Linked DNA regions of Homo sapiens. The protein of the gene in region 1 purifies or fractionates together with the protein of each later gene. This does not show direct contact. Each region holds a gene or a part of one and is shown in the gene's direction. Other genes may lie near its edges. The genes, in order: PTPN23, SH2D4A, CAD and CLINT1.

Region 1 (4,055 bases):
GGAGGATGAAGGTATGTTTTTATCCCCAGTACTCTTGGCCTATGGCGGTTTTCTTTCAGGCTTGCTGACATGGACCAAGGAGCTGAAGATTTCACTTGGCAATACGCCATTCTCTGAATATAATTAGTCTCATTTGAAATTTAGTAGCTGAACATATACTGTATTAATTAACAATACTGGTCAGGCACGTTGGCTCATGCCTGTCATCCCAGCACTTTGGGAGGCCAAGGCAGGAGGATCAGTCAAGACCAGGAGTTTGAGACTAACCTGGGCAACAAAGCAAGACCCTGTCTCTACAAAAAAAAAAAAAAAAAAAGAAAGGTCAGGCGTGGTGTGGTGGCACACACCTGTAGTCCCTGCTACTCAGGAGGCTGAGGTGGGGGGTATGGCTTAAGCCCAGGAGGTCGAGGCTGTGGTGAACCAAGATCTCGCCACTCCAGCCTGGGTGTCAGAGACCCTGTCTCAAAAAAAAAAAAAAAAAGTTTGTTTCTTAGAGTAGCCCAAGGAATGCCCTACATTTGAGTCAACTCTGGAACTGGAGAAAAAAGAAACATAATGTAACTGGTGAATAAAGGTAAAACTAACACATGTGATGCCTTTTAATTGCCTTTTCTTCTTGTCTTATTGCTTTAATTAGCATGATGAAATTCCAAATGTTAAATTAAGAGCAAAGCATACATAGAAGAATGAGAACATACTAGTACAAGAGAAGGTGACACAGAGGGATTAATATTAGGTCTGGAGTCAGGAAATCTGTCTTGGGGTCCTAGCACTATCATTGCTTATCTGTGGTTTGCCCTTTCTCTAATCTGCAAAATCATGGCAGGACCAGGATGGTTGTTTCCAGTGATCTCACCTAGCTACAAAATTCTCTACTGTTTGGTGCTCAGTAAAATAGCAGAGTAGCATCATGGAAATAGCATAGCTATTGGAATCAGACCTTGGTTTAGGTCCCCTCTCATTCCTTTAATAGCTGAATGATCTTGAGCTGTCACAAAGATTACATAACTAATGTAGTCCTCACTTTTCTTACCTGAAACATGGAACTAATAATATACCTCATAAGCTTCTGAGAATCAAAATTAATGCTTCTAAGTTCTTTTTTATTTTTATTTTTTTAGAGATGGGGTCTTGCTGTAACACCCAGGCTGGAGTGCAAAGGCACGATCTTGGCACACTGCAGCCTCTGCCTCCAGGTCTCAAGTGGTCCGTCCACCTCATCCTCCTGAATAGCTGGGACCACAGGCACGCACCACTCTGCTAATTTTGCTTATTTTTTTTTAGAGATAAGGTCTCACTGTGTTGCGCAGGCTGGTCTCAAACACCTGGGCTTAAGTAGGTATATAAGTATATACACCTACTATGTACCCACAAAAATTAATGGGGTACTTGATATGGCCAAACAGGTATAGTAATCACATCAGGGTAAATGGAGTATCCATTACCACAAGCATTTATCCTTTCTTTGTGTTACAGACAATCCAATTATACTTTTATTTTTAAATGTAATAAATTATTGCTGACTATAGTTACCCTGTTTTGCTGTCACTACTAGATCTTTTTTTTTTTTTTTTTTGAGACAGAGTTTCGCCTTGTCACGCAGGCTAGAGTACAGTGGCACAATCTCGGCTCACCACAACCTCCGCCTCCCGTGTTCAAGCGTTTCTACTGCCTCAGCCTCCCGAGTAGCTGGGATTACAGGCACCTGCCATCATGTCCAGCTAATTTTTGTCTTTTTAGTAGAGTCTGGGTTTTGCCATGTTGGACAGGGTGGTCTCGAACTCCTGACCTCAGATGATCCACCCGCCTTGGCCTCCCAAAGTGCTGCGATTGCAGGTGTGAGCCACCACGCCCAGCCTCAAATACTAGATTGTATTCATTCTATCTAACTATATTTTTGTACTCATTAACCATTCCCACTCCACTCCCCCACCCCACTCCCACTACCCTTCCCAGCCTCTGGTATTCATCATTCTACTGTCGGTTTCCATGAATTCAGTGGTTTTAATTTTTAGCTCCCACAAAAAAGTGAGAACATGCAGAGTTTGTCGTTCTAATGCTTGTTAAGTTCTTAGTACAGGTCTTGGCCTATTGTAAACAATATTTTCACCTGAGCATCTTCCTTCCCTGTTTGGGAAATAACTCGAATCCTTATGACAGCTCTGAGCTAGACGTAGCAAGTGATATTAACCCCATTTTACACATGAAAAAAGCCAAGCCTAGGCTGGGCATGGTGACTCATGCCTGTAATCCCAGCGCTTTGGGATGCCGAGGTGGGAGGATAGCTGGAGGCCAGGAGTTCGAGACCAGCCTGGGCACCATAGCAAGACCCCTGTCTCTACAAAATAAAAATAAAAATTAGCTGGGGCCAGGCATGGTAGCTCACGCCTGTAATCCCAGCACTTTGGGAGGCCAAGGCGGGTGGATCACGAAGTCAAGGGTTCGGGACCAGGGCCTGGCGCAGTGGCTCACGCCTGTAATCCCCGCACTTTGGGAGGCCGAGGCGGGTGGATCACGAGATCAGGAGATCAAGACCATCCTGGCTAACACGGTGAATCCCCGTCTCCACTAAAAATACAAACAATTAGCCAGGCGTGGTGGCGGGTGCCTGTAGTCCCAGCTGCTCAGGAGGCTGAGGCAGGAGAATGGCGTGAACCCGGGGGGGTGGAGCTTGCAGTGAGCTGAGATGGCACCACTGCACTCCAGCCTGGGTAACAGAGCGAGACTCCGTCTCAAAAAAAAAAAAAAAAAAAAAAAGGAGTTCGAGATCAGCCTAGCCAACATGGCAAAACCCCATCTCTACTAAAAATACAAAAATTAGCTGGGTATGGCTGCATGCACCTGTAGTCCCAGCTACTTGGGAGGCTTAGGCAGGAGAATTGCTTGAACCCAGGAGGTGGAGGTTGCAGTAAGCCGAGATGGCGCCATTGCACTCCAGCCTGGGTAACAGAGCGAGACTCCGTCTCAAAAAAAAAAAAAAAAAAAAATAGCTGGGCATGGTGGCACACAGCTGTAGTCCTAGCCACACAAGAGGCTGAGGTGGGAGGATCACTTGGAGTTTGAAGCTTCATTGAGCTATGATAGTACCACTGCACTCCAGCCTGCCTGACAGAGCAAGACAATTTAAAAAAACAAAAAACAAAAACCAAGCCCAGATTTCACAGCAACTCAGGGGCACTGTTTCCCACTTGTAATCTGGTAACTCCTTTCTTTTCTTTTTCCCCTCGGTGGCTGTGATCCCTGGACGTGCCCTCACTGAGAGCTCTCCACGGGTCTTCTTTTATTCCTTCAGAAAAGGATCCCCAGCTACTTCAAAGCCTGGCTGTTTTTGGAGGTTCTCTGGTCTTCTTCCTGTTAGTTGTGTAGGTACTGGGGTCCTGTCAGGGCCTCTGGTTCTTTCTCCTCGTCTGCTGCTGGGCCTGCCTTCTCAGCCTCCATTGGAGCTTCATACTTCCCGCTAGACTGTTCCGAGTTCTGCAGAGTCCCAGACCATAGCGAAATGGGGACAAGGTCTCTGTCCCTTACTCCAGGAACTTCACCCAGCCTCTTTCTTCTTTTTTAGTGGAGGAGTGATCAGCAGTCACAGAGGATTTTGTTAGGGTTTTAAAAACATCCTTTTGCTTCTAACAGGCTGCAAATAATAATAATAACATAAATATCCTGGCTGCTCCACTGACTCACTGTGTGGCCAGGGATTCATTTTCTGTGCCTGTTTTTCAGAGTTGTTTGTAAGAACCATATTTTTAAAAAATAGAAATGCTCTGGGAGGCTGATGTGGGTCAACTGCTTGAGCCCAGGAGTTTAAGACCAGACTGGGCAACATAGTGAGACTCCCATCTCTATAAAATAAAAAAAAGTTTGGGCGTGATGGCTCATGTCTGTAATCCCAACACTTTGGGAGTCTGAGGCAGAAGGATTGCTTGAGGCTAGAAGTTCCAGACCAGCCTGGGCAATATAGCAAGACACTACCTCTACAGAAAATTAGCTGAGTATGGTGGTATGTGCCTGTAGTTCCGGCTTCTTGGAAGGCTGAGGCAGGAGAATTACTTGGACCC
Region 2 (4,055 bases), on another chromosome or scaffold:
GAAGGGGAAATTGTAGAGACGAAGTGGATGACTAAGTGCAAGGGGAAATGGGACTAAGTGTCTGGTGAATACGTGGGTAAGCAATGTCCACACCTGGGTCAGTGTGACAGTCGGTTCCTTGCTGTCCTTCCTGGCTGGGGTGTGTGCACCTGGCCTCCCCTAAGCTTAGCTACAGTTGACCAGGAGGAGGCTTCTGCCCTGTGTCAAGCACCATCAGTTCAGCGTTTCTGTTGCTGCAGGAATTTGCTGGCTTCCATTCTGAAATTTCATACATGGCACCACATCCTGCTGTTCTGATTCTGGGCACACAAATAAACTCACAAAAAGGCCTCTGTGTTGTGTATTACAGTGAAGCTGAGTTAGAGCTGGACTGCCCGGCTCTGCCGCTTACCAGCTGCTGACCTGTGCTCTATCTTCCTAATCTGTGAGATGGGCATAGTGATGGGCTGGACTCCAAGGGTTATTGTGAAGATTAAGTGAGTTAACACATGTAGAGTGCTTAATTAAGATGGTGCCTGGTACAAGAAGTGTTAGCTGTGTTATCAGGAATATGCAGGGCGGGGGAGACTGGAGGAATATGACTTTGACACTTTAAGGGTTTTAGATTCTAGGATCTACCCATGCCTTGAATAGGATTCGCTGCATTCAAAATGGGGAACACAGCAGAAGTCTCAACCCCAGCTGAACTGTTCATCTTCTGCCGTGTGTGATTTCTGCGAAAACCAACCATTGAACTTAAGGACATTTACTGGAATGTCAAGGAGTCATTCTGTCTCCTTTCTTACCACTTTATCTTGGAGCTTGTGGATTTCATTGGCTCCACCCTTTGAGAAGCTGCTAGAAACAAAAAGTCAAAAGTCAAGAAATCTTGACAAGACATCCATTTTTTTTTTTTTTTTTTTTTTTGGCTGTTCAAGCCTTTAAGGGTATCTCAATGCAAAATACAAAGTTGGCAAGTGGATCTGGGAAGGGCGTGATATTACTTTTAGTCCTTTAAAATTTTTCTCTTAATGTTTGGTTCCATTTGGATTCTGGTAGTTGAATGCTGCCGAGATGATAGGTTGCAGTCAGTAGGGATAGGTGTAGTTTCATCAAGGGCCTGGCTTCACAATGAACAGTCAGCGAATCTAAGAGCTGAGTATGCACACCACTCTGTGGTAGCCTAGCTGTTGAGCGTGCTTGTCTCAAAAGACAGGTGTAAATCAAGGAACTACTTTGCACGGAAGAGGAGGAAGACGGGAAGCTGAAGGAGGCCCCCAGATGGTGAGAGGGGCATTACAAATCTAACTGTATCAATGACAAGGTGAACGAAGAGAAACCAACAACACTACGATGGTCATAATATAGCTAAGTGACTTGTCTGAAGTTTAAGACTGTTTGAACATAGTATGGAGAAACAACGTATTTGAGAGCACATGGCAAGGTGGTAAGATTATTGAGGTGTTATTATAAATAACAAATTATTGGTCAATTTCTTTTTTTTTTCTTTTTTTATTTTTGAGACAGAGTCTCCCTCTGTTGCCCAGGCTGGAGTGTAGTGGCGCGATCTCGGCTCACTGCAACCTCTGCGTCCTAGGTTCAAGCGATCTCCTGTCTCAGCCTCTTGAGTAGCTGGGATTACAGGCACCCACCACCATGCCCAGCTAATTTCTGTATTTTTTGTTTTTTTAGTAGAGATGTTGGTCATACTGGTCAGACTGGTCTCGAACTCCTGACCTCGTGATCCCCCCTCTTTGGCCTCCCAAAGTGCTGGGATTACAGGCGTGAGCCACCCCGCCTGGCCTATTGGTCAATTTCTTAGGACACATGTGATTCTGAAAAGTTGTAGTAAGTTTTTTTTCTTATATCTTATTACATCGAATCCAAAGTCTTTTGTTTTCCAGAATAGATATATTTACATAGTTTCCTGCTGATTACAAAAGTATGATGGTTTATGGGACTTAGAAATTGTTTAAAAATAGAGAGAGAAAGTATGACAGTGTGGTAATATTTTTAAGCCAATATTTTAAAATAGAAATGTGGAAAGTAGAATGAAACCTCAGTAGGATTTCCAACCACAGGAGAACTTCTAGGAGGCCACTGTGCACTCTCGCTTTATGGTTTCTCTTTCAAGGAGCCATGCGGTAAAGTCATATAAATGAAGGATCCTTTGTTATGAACCTAATGACCTCTTCATCCCCCTAGTTTATCTGGTCTGTCCATTTAGATTTTATTAAACTAGGTTATCTGGAAAAAGCACACCTAAAACTCGGTGACCTTCCAGAATGTAGATGGATGTTCTCTCTTGCACCTGCCCTGATTTTCATGGCTCTAGTAGGTTATCTGGAAATTACATTATCCTTTTGTGAAGAGGAAAGTACATAATTTTGTTTATTTAATGCTACTTTTTAGGGAAATTGCAGAAAATGCATGGTGGTCTAGTTTTTATTTCTTCCTTTTTCTTCCTTGAGCATGGCTCTATTTTGGTTTGGTTTGGGATGAGTTACTCTGTGACATATCAAAAGTGGTATTTTCTTTTGAAATAGGTACTTTGCAGAGAGCCTTTTAATTTCTTCCTGTGACTTTTTTTTTTCTTTCTTTTTTCAGCCACACAGTTGGTGGTTTGTTAGGCTCTGGGGTAATAATGTGTTTGCTTAGTTGGGAGCTGGACAAACCTCTGTGAACTTTTTTTGTTTGCCTGAGATTGACCTGTATAAAGTTAGGGTTTGTTTTCTTTTTTTTTTTGACAGAGTATCTTTAGAAATTACAGGATAGAGGTTATACAAACTCTTAACAAAGTGTGCCTCAGATTTTCTTCTTCTCTTTTCTCTCTGAACTGAAAAGTGATACTGTGTTTCCTCCTAGCTTTTTTTTTTAAACCCGTCCTAGCCAGTGTCCACACATTTTAACACGCTGCCTGAATGTGGGCTCTTTCTCTCTGCAGGTTCAGTGAACAGCATTTTGGACAGGACATTTGGTGCCAGGTCTGAGTAGCCAGTTTGCTGAATTATTGTCCCAGTCAGCCAGGATTGTGAGCTGTTTGGGAAGTTTCGTGGAAACGCCCAAGTGCCAGCACAGGTGGAGGGACACCTGGAGGCCAGTTTCAGGAACTTTTGCCACAAGTATAAAAGACTTCAGAAGTGCAAAGATGCTGAAACAGATACTGTCGGAGATGTACATAGATCCTGATCTACTGGCAGAGCTCAGCGAAGAACAGAAACAGATCCTGTTCTTCAAGATGAGAGAGGAACAGATCCGACGATGGAAAGAAAGAGAAGCAGCTATGGAAAGAAAGGAGTCCCTGCCAGTGAAACCCAGACCAAAGAAAGGTAAACTTATCCACGTTTCTTCTGTGGATGTGTTGGTAGAACAGCTCCTGGCTTGCTTTGACAATTTCACACTAGTCACAAGCAAAGCAGGTGCAAGTTCCAGTTTGGCAGATGAATCCTAAATGTTATTGAGAATCTAATAGTGCAGTATGTCCACCTGAAGTCTACACACACACACACAGCATTCACCATGGAGTTGCATAGCTATGAGGAAATCTTTTACTTGAAACCAGACTAACCTGAAGCTGTATTAAAAAGTCACCTATGAGGTTTGATTTGAGGGGTATTAAGAAAGGTTTCTATCTCCTTTATTGTTACTGGTTCCTAATATGCTACTACTAGAACACAAAGTTCTTGTGTCAGTATATTTATAGCAATTGTGTTTGCATTTCTTAGACCTCAGAGATTTTTCTTTGAGGTATCTTTTTAGGGAACACCTCCTGTTAAAATGTAAGGAATTGCTATAAGGAAAAAAATCATAATACTATCTTTTTTTAGTGTGAATGAGTTTCTCAGATGTAAACTTTTCCTCGTTATCAAAGGAATCTCTGGTAGTTTGAGAGGGTTCTTTTGAGACCATGGGGGAGGAAATCTTTGTACATTAAGACTTAAAGCAGACAAGGTGCAGTGGCTCATGCCTGTCATTGCAGCACTTTGGGTGGCCGAGGTAGGAGGATCACTTGAGTCCAGGAGTTCTGACCAGCCTGGAAATATAGTGAGACCTTTTCTTTAGGAAAAATAAAAAAT
Region 3 (4,055 bases), on another chromosome or scaffold:
TGCTCTTTTCTCAGCATCTTTTGCAATGCCTGCACCTCAATAAATGTCTGACTGACACCATGTGCCTTGCTCTTGAGTTCTCTGTTTCGTGACAAAGACACAAATACATATTCATCATATGACGTAAATAGCAAGAGAGGAAATAAAGTATTAAAACAGCTCTAAGATGGAGGCACAAGCTGTATTGGGTGAGTGGGAGGGGCTTCACAGAGAAAGGATTTGTGATTTCAGTTTTAGATAAAGGAAGAAAGAGGCGGGGCGCGGTAGCTCATGACTTGTAATCCCAGCACTTTGGAAGGCTGAGGTGGGGGGATCGCTTGAGCCCAGGAAGTTTGAGAGCAGCCTGGCAACATGGTGAGACGCTGTCACTACAAAAAATTCAAAAAATTAGCCAGGTGTGATGATCCACACCTGTGGTCCCAACTACTCAGGAGTCTGAGGTGGGAGAATCACTTGAGCCCAGGAGATTGAGGCTGTAGTGAACCGTGTATTTGTGCCACTGTACTCTGCACTCCAGCCTGGATAACAGCAAGACCCTGTCTCAAAAAAAAAAAAAAGGAATGGCTAGGTGCGATGGCTCACTCCTGTAATCCCAGCACTTTGGGAGGCTGAGGTGGGCAGATCACAAGGTCAGGAGATCTGAGACCATCCTGGCTAACATGGTGAAACCCCGTCTCTACTAAAAATACAAAAAATTAGCCGGGTGTGGTGGCGGGCGCCTGTAGTCCCAGCTACTCGGGAGGCTAAAGCAAGAGAATTGCTTGAATCCGGGAGGCAGAGGTTGCAGTGAGCTTAGATGTCGCCACTGCATTGCAGCCTGGGTGACAGAGTGAGACTCTGTCTCAAAAAAAATAAATAATAAATAAATAAAAAGGAAAATGTCATTTTCAGTGATCATCGGGGCACCCTGGGCCTGTGGGTTGTGTTTCGTATAGGAGAGAGCGTTGTTGGTAAATGGAAATACCTATGCAAAAGCACCAAAAGTTTGGTATATTGAAGGCCATTCAATGTGGCTGAATATAGGGTCTGTGGCCACACAATCGGGAAAATGCTGCAAAGAAATAACTTGGCCTGAGGCTTCTCACAATCTCTTTCCATCTACAGTGGTTTGAATCCTCGGGCATCCACGTAGCAGCACTGGTAGTGGGAGAGTGCTGTCCTACTCCCAGCCACTGGAGTGCCACCCGCACCCTGCATGAGTGGCTGCAGCAGCATGGCATCCCTGGCTTGCAAGGTATGGTGGCAAGCAGGGGCATATTTGGGCAGAGCACAGCATGCCTGGATGGAAAGAATCAAGGTTTCTGTAATCTGCTGGGACCTGACTCTAAGATTGTGATAGTTGGAAGGTTTAGATTGGAGTTGGGCTGGGAGAAAGAATTGAACTATCACTCAGAAAGAAAATTTCCAACACAGGAAGGAACTCCCACCTTCCATAATCATCAGCTTAGGGCTAATCTTATTTCATCACCACCACTGGATTATTTTGATGCAAATCTCAGACATCATATCATTTCATCTACAAATAGTTCAATATCTATGCAAAAGGAATCTTTAAAAAACATGATCATAATAACGTCATACACTAAAAAAATTAATAATTCCCTAATACAAGTGTCCAGGCAATGTTTAAAATTTCCCAATTTTTTTTTTTTTTTTTTTTTTTTTTTCTGTTCATTTGAATCTTGCTCTAAACAGGGTTCACACATTGCATTTGGTTGATAAGTCTCTTAATCTGTGGACCTTGTAACCTATTTGAAAACAGGTCATTTTTCCTGTATCTAGTATCCCATAGTCTGCACTTACTTGGTTACACTCCTGTAGTGTTACTTAGCGTATTCTTTTTTTCCCTTTATATTATTTTCTATAAATGGATAGATTTAGAGTTGTTCAATTCAGATGTGATATTTTTGGCAGGAATACTTCATGGTAGTATACTTCTGTCACAATGGCCCAGGATTTTGATGCACATAGAACAGCTGTGTGTGACTGGGGCTCTGGAATGGAAGTGCTTCTGGAAGTCTAACCTCACAGATGACTGAGTTGTAGGAATGTGATCCCTAAGACTGTGCTATTTTGACAGGAGTAGACACTCGGGAGCTGACCAAGAAGTTGCGGGAACAGGGGTCTCTGCTGGGGAAGCTGGTCCAGAATGGAACAGAACCTTCATCCCTGCCATTCTTGGACCCCAATGCCCGCCCCCTGGTACCAGAGGTCTCCATTAAGGTACAGAGGTAGAGTGGGAGAGTGTTGCAAGCTCTAGCACAGTAGTTATATTCTGCCCACAATTGGGGGGTGAACACAGGAGAGAATCAAAGGAGGCTTTGAAGGTAGGAGTTGGTGCAGGCATATCTTATACCCACTGAGCACAGCTGCCAACTGTTGCCCTTTATTCGTCTATTTCTCAGACTCCACGGGTATTCAATACAGGGGGTGCCCCTCGGATCCTTGCTTTGGACTGTGGCCTCAAGTATAATCAGATCCGATGCCTCTGCCAGCGTGGGGCTGAGGTCACTGTGGTACCCTGGGACCATGCACTAGACAGCCAAGGTGAGTAGCTGGGGCCTGTTCAGGGCCTCAGACAAGCAGCTTGGGTGGAAGATCTATCCCTTGGTCCAATTGCTAAAAGTCAGTAGGAGTTGCAGTGAAGAAGATAGACATTGGGACTTAACACTCTCATGGGCTGGGGGGGCTGCAGGTGTGTCTCCTGTAATTGAAATACTGATTTTGATGTCATCTTTTCTGCCCACTCCAGAGTATGAGGGTCTCTTCTTAAGTAATGGGCCTGGTGACCCTGCCTCCTATCCCAGTGTCGTATCCACACTGAGCCGTGTTTTATCTGAGCCTAATCCCCGACCTGTCTTTGGGATCTGCCTGGGACACCAGCTATTGGCCTTAGCCATTGGGGCCAAGACTTACAAGATGAGGTGGGACTTGTGGGGAGCAGAAGGGGCCCATACTTGTGGCATGAGGGGTGGGGTGTCTCAGGAATGAGAAGAGAGTTGGTGTTTATTCGTGTTGAAATAGGAGCGGGGGGGTTGCAGGTGAGGTGGCTCCCACCTGTAATCCCAGCACTTTGGGAGGCCAAGGTGGGCGGATCACTGGAGGTCAGGAGTTCGAGACCAGCCTGGCCAACATGGTGAAACTCTGTCTCTACTAAAAATACAAAAGTTGGCCAGCCATGGTGGCGTGCGCCTGTAATCCCAGCTACTCCAGAGGCTGAGGCAGGAGAATCGCTTGAACCTGGGAGGTGGAGGTTGCAGTGAGCGGAGATCGTGCCATTGCCCTCCAGCCCGGGAAACAGAGGGAGACTCCGTCTCAAAAAAAAAAAAAAAACAAAAAGGAAACAGGAGTGAGGCTACTGAGAACAGGAGATCGGTGAGAGCTGGGGTAGGTTCAGTAGTGAAGAGAGGGTGAGCAGGGCCTGTGACTCGGCATGCTTCTACCTCCAGATATGGGAACCGAGGCCATAACCAGCCCTGCTTGTTGGTGGGCTCTGGGCGCTGCTTTCTGACATCCCAGAACCATGGGTTTGCTGTGGAGACAGACTCACTGCCAGCAGACTGGGCTCCTCTCTTCACCAACGCCAATGATGGTTCCAATGAAGGCATTGTGCACAACAGCTTGCCTTTCTTCAGGTGAGCCTGGTTGACTGGGTCTGTGAAAATTTGAAGCCCTGTGGGCCTTGATGATGGAAAAGTAAAGCACGGCAGTGGATCCGAGTCCCCTGTCCCACTACCCACCTCGAGGCTGCCAGTGTCATGCCAGGGACCATGATGGTTTTCATGATGCAATCTCTTCAATAGTGTCCAGTTTCACCCAGAGCACCAAGCTGGCCCTTCAGATATGGAACTGCTTTTCGATATCTTTCTGGAAACTGTGAAAGAGGCCACAGCTGGGAACCCTGGGGGCCAGACAGGTAAGATCCTGAGTAGAACTGGGTTGTGGACCTAAGAACAGGGTTGGCTCCAGGATGGGCATAAGGTGGACATGCCCTGGGCAACTCCTAGATGTCTAGGAGGTTAAGGGTATTGGGGATGGGTGGCAACCAACCCAAG
Region 4 (4,055 bases), on another chromosome or scaffold:
TAGCCACTTTTTAGTTATTTTGTTGTTTCTCATTGTCCTTTTCATTTTCTTCCAACCTGCCTTAATTTTTAATGTTTTCTTTTTTAAAAATACCTCACGTGCTCTCTGTACCTTCTACTGTTGCTTCTTAAGTTGGATTTGGACATGGAAATGGAAGGGTTTCATTTTGTGTCTGTAATTCCTATGTCTCCTTTGGGTCCCTAGGGGCAAGGACTAAAACAAATCTTGACATTTTGGGTTTTTTGTTTACTGCCACGATCTATTCTCTGCATTCCCAAATTCACACAGAGGCTCTAGGTTTCGCCAGTCTCAGCATATGTTTGGAATGGGTGTTTGAATTGGTTGACACTGTTCTGAACTACTGTTTGAGCATACTTCCTGATTCTAGTATGTGTAGTTTTTGGTAGTTAGAGTAATCCTTTCTTTGTACAGTAATTACGGAATGCTTTCCCATCCCCTGAAAATTCATTGAATTATTTTTTTAGTTTGATACTGAGGCGTGACAGTTATTGAGACTTTTTAGCTTATTGGGACATGTAGCATTCAGATTGGAGTTCCTTCAGTTGTATTTTTTAAGATACTGTTGCTATCCAATGCTTTTCTGAAAATTGGGAAACCATTAAGGGACAGGAATAAAATATAACATATTAAGTGTCTTTTGTGAAAACAGAAAGATTTTCATTTCTCTTTTGCTTATATAGCTTGTGTTGGTTTTGTGTTTTCCACTACTCCTTTCAGTAGCCTTTAAGAATTTCCTGATATGCTGTGCTGTGCATTAAGGTTGTGTAAGTATTCATAAACAAAAGCTTTTGAATCTGCATTCCTGCCACTTAATGACTGGCATTACATGCTATGCCTTGCTGTAATTGTGTTGATTCAGCACTGTGGGAGCTTTCTGTTTTCCTTTGAAAATGATTTTATTATGAGGAAAAGCCTGAGAAATAAGGACTTGTAGATACCTTTTGAATTTAATGTCGTTAGAATTGCTTCTTTTTTTAATGCTCTATCTAGGTGAAAGATATGATCCTGAGCCCAAATCAAAATGGGATGAGGAGTGGGATAAAAACAAGAGTGCTTTTCCATTCAGTGATAAATTAGGTGAGCTGAGTGATAAAATTGGAAGCACAATTGATGACACCATCAGCAAGTTCCGGAGGAAAGATAGAGAAGACTCTCCAGAAAGATGCAGGTATTTTACCACTTTGTCTCCCGGGTCTCTTAGAAAGAGCCCTAAATTTATGCCACTGGGTTTTTGGTTTTTTGTTGGTTTTGTTTGGGGTATTAACATTATCTGAAATTGGGCCTTTTTTTTTTTTTTTAATAGACTTCATTTGTTTTTAGAGCAATTTAAGCTCACAGAAAAATTGTGCATAAAGTACAGAGTTGTCATATACCCACTTCCCCTTCATAACAGGTTCTGTGAACATCTTGCATTACTATGGTGCATTTGTTAACAATTGAAAAGCCAGTATGGATACACTTATTAACTAAAGTCTGTAGTTTACGTTGGGGTTTCCTATATTGTACACTTCTATGGGTTTCGACAAATGCATAATATTCCTCATTACTGTATTGTATAGAATAGTTTCACTGCCATAAATATGCCCTGTGCAGAAATGTGGAACAAGTCTTAAATGTGCAAGTTATCCTTGCACAGGGGGCATGCTAATCTTCCCTGTATTGTTCTGGTTTTAGTACATATGCTGCTGAAGCAAGCACTGTGCAACTATTTTTAAGATACTAGGTTATACACTACTTGCAATTAGTATTGACATACTTTCCATGTTGCCTCTGTCTACTTATTTTTGAAGTTGATCCTGTGTATTTTTATTCAAGCTAGTAGTCTTTCCTTGGATTTTTTTCCCCAGTAAAAACTTGTATAGATTATTTTGCATTTGGACCTTAGATGATCCAGGGACCTAAGATACTGAGGGATAATGAAGTTTATATATTAAGTTTAATTAAACATAAGTCAAAGGATTTGAAATTTAATGCTTCCTTGACATTTCATTATGATTCTGTGCCAGTGTGTACCAGAAAAACAATCCAAATGGATTTTGAACCAGTTTTTGAGAATAGAGCTGTATTTTTATAAACTACATTTTCTGATGGTATTTAGTTTTACATGGAACAATACTTTGAGCTTTGCAGCAGTCACTTTTGTTCTTACTTACCAATATTATTATAAACCAATTTTTCTGAGAATGTAAAGGGTAATGCATATAGCACTTAATTTACAGAGCAAATTTTACTTTTTAAATTTGACCTTTATCATTTGTGCCTCACAATATCTCTACTAGAGTAGAATAAGAATTTTGTCTTTGTTGTTTATAAGTAAAACCTAAAACCCAGTCACACTGTGTGGACTTGCCTAAATAACACAGTTAGTGATGGAACCAAGCCTTCAAGTGAGTTCTCGTAACTAAATGCCATCTCTTTTTCTTTACCCTGCGCCAAAAATCCTAATAGTTCAGAATTAGGGATCATTAAAAAGAGGTCCAAACAAAAATACAATCTAATTAGTGTATTTTTAGGATGTTTTCATATCTTTTAAATCCCTGGAATGCCTGTTCAGGAAATACCAACAGAATAATGGCCATAATTTCAATAATGTTTTCCAAACCAAGCCAAAACTTACACAGGCCACAAAAACATTAATGAGGGAAACAGCTCTGTATATTTGAAGTGGGCACCATTTCCCTCCCAATGTTTAGTATTTATAATTATCATATGCATCCTTTTTCAGTATAAAAAAGCTAGATATATACTTGTAAAATAGATTTATTCAAAGTGCTAAAAATAAGTTCTAGCTCTTCAAAGATCACATTCCAGTTTTTCAAACAGTCTTGAAAAAGAGACATTTCAGGGCAGGCTCAGTTCCACCACTAACTGTGTTACTTTAGGCAGATCCACACAGTCTGGTTGGGTCTTAGGTTTTACTTATAAACAATAACGCTATGTAGGCTGGTTAGATATCTGTGTGTGTTCTGTATTGTTACTTTCTCTCCTTTGCCCTTCTATCCTTAGTTTTTCTTTTCTTTGTCTCTCTACTCTTCTTTTATTTCTGTTTCTCCCATGATTTTTATTTTTTATGTTGCCTCTAAGACAGGATCTCCTAGAGTTTCTAAATCTTTAAGGAGTATTTAGGTTTAAAAGAGTGAAAATGCAGTGAACATGATTTATCGTGATAATGATAGGGCACACCAGGAACTTTTTATCTTAAAGTATTTGTGAGAGAAGAGTAGATTTTTTGACAGAGTTGCATATGACCTCAATCCTGATGGCATGTTACCTGAATTTCATACTTATTAGTTCACTATTACATTCAGGAATTCTTGAACATTGATCAGATATGGAGCTTCCATTTCATCGTGTGCTAGTCAGATTTATATTTTCAACTTGTGAATAAATTATTTTGCGCTGAAATAAAATTGGACACCAAAAAAGTAAGAAATTTCAGTTTTACTTGTAGGACTAATGGGAATCTTCAGGTCATTTGTTGTTGAGAAGTTAGTAAGGGCTTTTGAATGCGTATCAGAACTTGTAGGTTCCTTAAAATGTTTATATATAAAAATATATTTAACCCCTTTGCTCTGTGTGGGAAGTCATTCTTTTTGATCTTTGATTTATACAAGTTCCAGATTGGTTTATATTTAAGTACAAGTTGCTATAGTTCAGTCTGAGGTAAATTGCATCAGCAGTTTAAAGGAGAATTTTAAACATTATATTCCAGAATATTTATAAATTAAACCACCTACTCTAAAATTAAGTAATACAGGTAATGGAACATGTTTCAAGTAACATTTCTCTCTTTCTCTCTCTTTCGCTCTCTCTCTCTCTCTCTCTCTCTCTCCTACTTACATCAGAAAAAAACCCAATGACTTGTTACTAGAGAACAGACTAGGGCTGATATTTTCATTCCTAGCATATGAAAAACCCAGGCTTTTACTGTTTAGTTTTTAAAATCTTTTTCACTATTAAAGAAAAAGGAAAGAAAAAATTGTTGAATGTGGCTGAAGGAGAATTATCTTTAAAATATTTTAAATACAGTTGTT

What was found.
Region 2: the proteins of PTPN23 (region 1) and SH2D4A purify together in Homo sapiens (co-immunoprecipitation; one large-scale study listed by IntAct). This does not show direct contact.
Region 3: the proteins of PTPN23 (region 1) and CAD purify together in Homo sapiens (affinity purification with mass spectrometry; one large-scale study listed by BioGRID and IntAct). This does not show direct contact.
Region 4: the proteins of PTPN23 (region 1) and CLINT1 purify together in Homo sapiens (affinity purification with mass spectrometry; one large-scale study listed by BioGRID and IntAct). This does not show direct contact.

The regions. Positions count from the first base shown.
Region 1 is NC_000003.12:47,387,107-47,391,161, forward strand, and holds part of PTPN23 (tyrosine-protein phosphatase non-receptor type 23), read left to right. Parts: intron 1-4,055. UniProt on the Homo sapiens protein: Plays a role in sorting of endocytic ubiquitinated cargos into multivesicular bodies (MVBs) via its interaction with the ESCRT-I complex (endosomal sorting complex required for transport I), and possibly also other ESCRT complexes.
Region 2 is NC_000008.11:19,316,421-19,320,475, forward strand, and holds part of SH2D4A (SH2 domain-containing protein 4A), read left to right. Parts: intron 1-2,923; 5' UTR 2,924-3,127; coding exon 3,128-3,308; intron 3,309-4,055. UniProt on the Homo sapiens protein: Inhibits estrogen-induced cell proliferation by competing with PLCG for binding to ESR1, blocking the effect of estrogen on PLCG and repressing estrogen-induced proliferation. May play a role in T-cell development and function.
Region 3 is NC_000002.12:27,220,114-27,224,168, forward strand, and holds part of CAD (multifunctional protein CAD), read left to right. Parts: intron 1-1,104; coding exon 1,105-1,234; intron 1,235-2,080; coding exon 2,081-2,223; intron 2,224-2,405; coding exon 2,406-2,547; intron 2,548-2,752; coding exon 2,753-2,924; intron 2,925-3,449; coding exon 3,450-3,635; intron 3,636-3,803; coding exon 3,804-3,916; intron 3,917-4,055. UniProt on the Homo sapiens protein: Multifunctional protein that encodes the first 3 enzymatic activities of the de novo pyrimidine pathway: carbamoylphosphate synthetase (CPSase; EC 6.3.5.5), aspartate transcarbamylase (ATCase; EC 2.1.3.2) and dihydroorotase (DHOase; EC 3.5.2.3).
Region 4 is NC_000005.10:157,806,762-157,810,816, reverse strand, and holds part of CLINT1 (clathrin interactor 1), read left to right. Parts: intron 1-1,011; coding exon 1,012-1,189; intron 1,190-4,055. UniProt on the Homo sapiens protein: Binds to membranes enriched in phosphatidylinositol 4,5-bisphosphate (PtdIns(4,5)P2). May have a role in transport via clathrin-coated vesicles from the trans-Golgi network to endosomes. Stimulates clathrin assembly.